Regions from separate parts of the Homo sapiens genome. Here region 1 is linked to region 2. The links come from fine-mapping of genetic effects on gene expression. A gene starts in region 2. The other region holds a variant in brackets. All regions are shown on one strand. Distances are between the middles of the regions. Region 1 has its middle 27 kb from the start of SLC17A2. Region 2 holds the start of SLC17A2 (solute carrier family 17 member 2).

Evidence for each region. PIP is the estimated chance that this variant, and not a neighbour inherited with it, causes the effect.
Region 1: its variant is fine-mapped to the expression of SLC17A2 in testis (GTEx, PIP 0.95).

The regions. Positions count from the first base shown.
Region 1 is chr6:25,901,990-25,904,908 of GRCh38, forward strand. No RefSeq gene overlaps it. Among named protein-coding and RNA genes, the nearest start is that of SLC17A2, 27 kb to the right of the region's middle. The variant T/C (reference allele first, on the strand shown) is at 1,850.
Region 2 is chr6:25,929,428-25,932,346 of GRCh38, forward strand. It overlaps SLC17A2 (solute carrier family 17 member 2), which reads right to left and starts at 1,264. Exons shown (of 12, transcript NM_001286123.3): 1 at 850-1,264.

The DNA.
Region 1 (2,919 bases), 27 kb before region 2:
TAATTTTTGTTTATTTCTACAGAGGCAGGGTCTCACTATGTTGCCCAGGCTGATCTCAAATTCCTGGCCTCAAGTATCCTCCCACCTCTGCTTCCCAAAGCGCTGGGATTACAGGTGTAAGTCATTGCACCCAGCCAAAAGTTTTATTTTAAACTTATTATTATGAGCATGTAACAGATTTATGTGGTTTGAAATTCAAACCTACAAAAGAAAATAATAAAAAGCTAACAGATAGACAAACAAAAACAAAAGCAAAACCCCACTTGGCCATGCTCTCTAGTTCCTCATTTCTCTCTTGGAAGAAACCAGAGCAATGTTCCCTGTGTATCCTTCCAGAGATAATTTTTTAAAATACTTTTTTCTTTTTAACAGAAGAGATGGTAGACTACTTCTTTTAAATTAAATTAATATACATTTACTTGTTTCTTTTTATTGCTATAGAAAATGAAGTTGGGGAAACAGGAAAAATGACCTAGTATTATCATACTAACATACCAAAATTTTTCAGTTATATGTATTTCCTGTTTCAGTTTTTACCCCACCTGTTTTTTATTTGGTTTGAAATCATAGTACAGATAAAAACTTGAGGCAGGTATTTTAGACTTGTTTTTCTTTTGTAACATAAAACTTTGAGAGCACCAGGAAATCTGGAAATATTCATTTAGTTATTCATAATTCAAAATATTGTTATATCCACTTTGTGTCAGACTATTTGTTAAGAACTAAACTAAAAGAAAAAGATGGGGCTGGACATGGTGGCTCACACCTGTAATCCCAGCACTTTGGGAGGCTGAGGCGGGTGGATCACCTGAGTTTGGGAGTTCGAGGAAAGCCTTGCCAACACGGTGAAACCCTGTCTCTACTAAAAATACAAAAATTAGCCAGGTGTGGTGACACACGTCTGTAATCCCAGCTACTCAGGAGGCTGAGGCAGGAGAATCACTTGAACCCAGGAGGTGGAGGTTGCTGTGAGCCGAGATCATGCCACTGCACTCCAGCCTGGGCAGCAAAGCAAGATTCCATCTCAAAAAAAAAGATGATAACACCCTCTGGGAGATTACATTCAGATAGAACAAATAAAGGTGTAGAACCTAAGATGTGACAAGGACACTGTTGGGTGACTGATTCTTCCTGGGAACATTTATAAAGGCTTCCTAGGGGAGGGCGTGTTTGTGTAAGAGCTTTCCAGGTCAGAAAGTATGTACAGTGGAAAATGTATATGAAAAGACCGTGTTTGGGAATCAGGGATTATATATTGTGATTAGAGGAAAGAGTCCTAGGGTTTGATACCTACAAAGAATTAGAGTTTCTAGGTGCTTCTGGACATGTGGATTGATGACAGCAATACTAAAAATACAAAAATTAGTGGGGCATAGTGGTGAGCGCCTGTAGTCCCAGCTACTTGGGAGGCTGAGGCAGGAGAATAGCTTGAACCCGGGAGGCGGAGGTTGCAGTGAGCCGAGATTGTGCCACTGCACTCCAGCCTGGGTGACAGAACGAGACTCCGTCTCAAAAAAAAAAAAAGAAAAAAAGCAGGAGTTAGCAGAAAACCAACAAGACATGGGAAGGAGAGAGAGAGCTGCAACACCCAAGAGAAAAAATAGCAATGCTGAAATCAAAGTATAATGAAGGAGAGAGGATGCTGGAAGCTATGAAATTCTTTCTGTGAGGCAATGGGGCAATGACCCTAGAACTGCTGAGTTAGCAGCAGTGACAGACTCAGTGCCAAATCATATATTAGAAAAAAAAATCAGATAGAGGTAAAGTCCAGATCCAAAGAAGAGGGTTTTTAGCAGTAAAGCAGACAGTAGAACCCACCCAGCTTTCTAGGGTGCAGGGGGCCTCCCTT[T/C]CAGGCATCATGAACAGTGGGGGACCATAACTAGGCATGATGGCTTCAGATACAGGGCTTGTTCATCTCTTGTTGTGGTCAGGCACTGCCTAATGAGAGCAACCCCTTCCAAATGCTACTGCTGTGTTTAACTAGGGCTCTTGATAATCTGACCAGCTTCTGTCTTACTGATTTTAGGAGAAAAATGGAGCAACCTGCAAGATGAGTGGGATTAGCTTCGTGCTGTCTCCCATGCACACCACTCATGCACACTTGGCGAGCATGGCAGTTCCATTTATTTTGCACCCAGTTGTGATTTAAAAACTTTTAATTAATTAGTCTTATTAGTCTTCAGTTGGATTTAAATGCCAAATAATAACCTTCTACCTTGTAAGAGGAGCCCTTTTACCTAAAGCAAGGCTTAAGTTTGGATAAATTTTGTCCTATTTATTATTCATCCACAAGCTCTCTTAAAACACTGAATACACACTAAGAAGGCTCTCAGCACTCCGAATAGTGTGATAAATCAAAAGCCAGTAACTTCTCAAAGTCATTGTGTATTAGTCAGGGCTCTCCAGAGAAATAAAACCAATAGAACATATATACATGGGCTTTTACCCAAATGTCATCTTTTCAATGAGTCCTCTTGCCTGCTTAATTTTTCTTTTTAGCATTTGCCACCTCCATATAACATGCACTTTACTTATTTATTGTCTTATTCTCTTTCACATGGGCAGGGGTTGCATTTGTCTGTTTACTGCTGTATCCCTAGCACCTAGAGTGGTGCCTGGCATACGGCTGGTGTGTGATACATATATTTGGAGTGGAGGTAAAAGTCACCACTTAGGCTATCCACTTTTGTGACAGGGACAACACACGTATCACTTGTCATTGTACCTATAGCATCTCACCCAGAGCCACAAAAAAAGTGGCTCAAAGTATATATTAACAAAGAACAAAATGGAATAATCCCATCTGAAGGCGAGGATATAATAAAAGCAACATACCTTTTTTTGGAAGGACATGGAGAGCATCAACCTTAAGACTAAAGACTAAACTTGAGAAGCAATTATTACATTTCTATTAAAAAT
Region 2 (2,919 bases):
AGTCTAGCCCTCTCAGATCCATAAATACAGGCCTACAGCAAATGAAATGTATTTCTATAAAAGTGCCTTTGATTGGTTGTTAAATTGGTTTTAAATGTTTCTTTTTTAAAGTGGATTCTTCTGGCCTGGAATCCTCAAGATGAGTGGGGAGGAGTTCACCAGAAAACATAGAAGCAATTCCTTCAGTGTTAGAAAAACTGAGGGCCCTCTCATCATCTGCCTATCTTTCTGAGAAATTGGTGCTGACCACAATGTCCCTGGGTGCCTTTTCTTAGCTGTACAATGAGGGCAACAAGCTAGGTGATCTCTACAAGCGTACAATTTTCTTGCCTTCAGTCTTATTCATAACTTTGGTCATGTTCTCCTTTTCTTTTATTATTATTATTTTTTTGAGACAGAGTCTTACTCTGTCACCTAGGCTGGAGTGCAGTGGTATGATCTCAACTACTGCAACCTCTACGTCCTGGGTTCAAGCAATTCTCCTGCCTCAGCCTTCTGAATAGCTGGCACGCGCACTATGCATGCGCATAGGTGCACGCGCCGCTACGCCCTGCTAATTTTTGTATTTTTAGTGGAGACAGGGTTTCACCATGTTGGCCAGGCTGGTCTCAAACTCCTGACCTCAAGTGATCTGCCCGCCTCAGCCTGCCAAAGTGCTGGGATTACAGGCGTGAGCCACCAGGCCCGGCCATGTTCTCCTTTTCCTGAGAGACCATTTCAAATTCATATAGAAGTCTGAAAAGACTCGTTAGCCACAGTCCCAAACACAAATCTTGTCAGTTCTGATCAGTATTTCATTCCACAGCCAATCCCAGTCTGACTAATCACAGCATCACAGTTAATACTCACAGCGTCCTTGGAGAAATGACCATTGTCCACAGTGTCCATTGGTACCAGTGGCTTCTCAAGCCTTGCCCTAGGGTCTTCATTGAATCAGTTATCTTTTTCAGAGAGTCTCTTCATTTTGGAATTAGGCAATATTACCAGATGGAGATCCTTATGTTGCTGTTAATGTCTTTTCTCTGACTTCTCCTAAAACTGTTCCCTCCCCTTAATGGACCTTTGGTAAGTTAGTAATAATCCTTCTACCCAAAAAGAAGAAAAGCACTTACCTTCACCATTAAACCAGTATTTTAAGCCCTAGACTATAAGGCTAACTTGGAAAAGGAGGGAGTTTTCTGTCCCTTCTTCCCTTTCAAATACTTTTGCAGATTTTTACAGGGATAAATAGTGAGCCACGTGGCAGTCAGACGGCAACAGGTTTGGCCCCACTTTCTCAGAAAGCCTCGGCTTGGTTTTGCCGCTTAATTTTTAACTTCATTTTCAAGTTCTCACTGTTAGAGTATCTCAAAAGATGTCATCGTGTGTTTCTGCTTTGAACTGTGCATACAACCATTCAGTCAACAAGCCTTTTTTTCTGAAAGCAAGGGGGCATGGTGTGGAGGAAAGGGCAGGGCTCCTGAAATCAGTGATGGAGTCAGACCCATATTCACTTCCTAGTGTTTTCCCTGAGCTTGGACAAGTCACTGAACCTCTTTGAATTGGCTTCCGCTTTAGTAAAGCAAGGATTGTGTTACTGTACTCATGGGGTTATTGAACAAATGAAATACATATTCTAATTGGTAGTAGCTCCTCAATAAATGAGGTGTTCATTCCTCTTCAGGAGTTCAGTTAAGTCAGCTAGATTTTCCATATGCATTTGGTGCCCACAGCCTAATGAATGTGAACTGTGACTGCCCTGGCAACTTCCCAGGAAGCTGCCTTGTACCCCTCCTTCCTGTTTCATATCATCCATGTCTTCCCTAATCCATTTTCTGCTTGGCTCCCGACTCTTGGAATTGTGTCCTATTTGTAATCATTAATTTTGAGACTGTGGTTGCTATTGGATCTTCCTAGTGTGACGCAACCCTTATAAAATGAAATGAGAGCCTTCCCTCTCTGGCTTATCAGCTTCAGACTTCCTTAATTGAGTTCCGCCATCCTAGTGAGTCTCACCATACTCCCGAAATAACCTGCTGGAGTAGGCTTATCCTACTCAACTCCTCAGATCTCTGTATTTAATTCTATTTTATTGCTGTTGTAGTAAATTACCACAACTGTGATGGCTTGAAACAACACAAAATTATTTATTTATTTACAATTCTAAAGGTCAGAAGTCCAAAATGGGTTTCACTGAGCCAAAATCAAGGTATTGGCAAGGTTGTGCCCCCTCCAGAGGCTTTAGGGGAAAATCCATTTCTTTTTCTTTTCAGCTTGTAGTGACCACTGCATTTTTTGGCTCTTGGCCTTTCCTCCACCTTAAAGCCAGCAGTGTAACATCTTGAAGTATTTTTCTCTTATTCTGACTCTTCTGCCTGTCTCTTATAAGGACCCTTGTGATTACACTAGGGCCCATCTGCAAAATTCAGGAAAATCTGCCCATCTCAAAATTCTTAACTTATTAAACATGTAAAGTCCCTTTTGTCATATAAGGTAATATATTTACAGGTTCTGGGGATTAGGACATGGATATCTTTGGAGGACAACATTCAGCCTACCCTTTTGAGGGATAGAGGGGTAGCAGGAAGAGTTGAAACAATTCCTTCCTTTCTTTATTTAAAAATTCTGGTTATTGATTTATTATAGTTATCATGTGCCTGATAAGCCAATGAAAATAGTTATAATGGCCAGGGGCAGTGGCTCATGCCTGTAATCCCAGGACTTTGGGAGGCTGAGGCAGGAGAATCGCATAAGCCCAGGAATCCAAGACCAGCCTTAGCAACATAGGGAGATCCCGTCTCCACAAAAAAATGCAAAAATTAGCTTGATGTTGTGGCACATGCCTATAGTCCCAGCTACTCAGGAGGATTGCTTGAGCCCTGGAGTTCAAGGCTGCAGTGAGCTGAGATTGCACCACTGCACTCCAGCCTAGGCAATAGA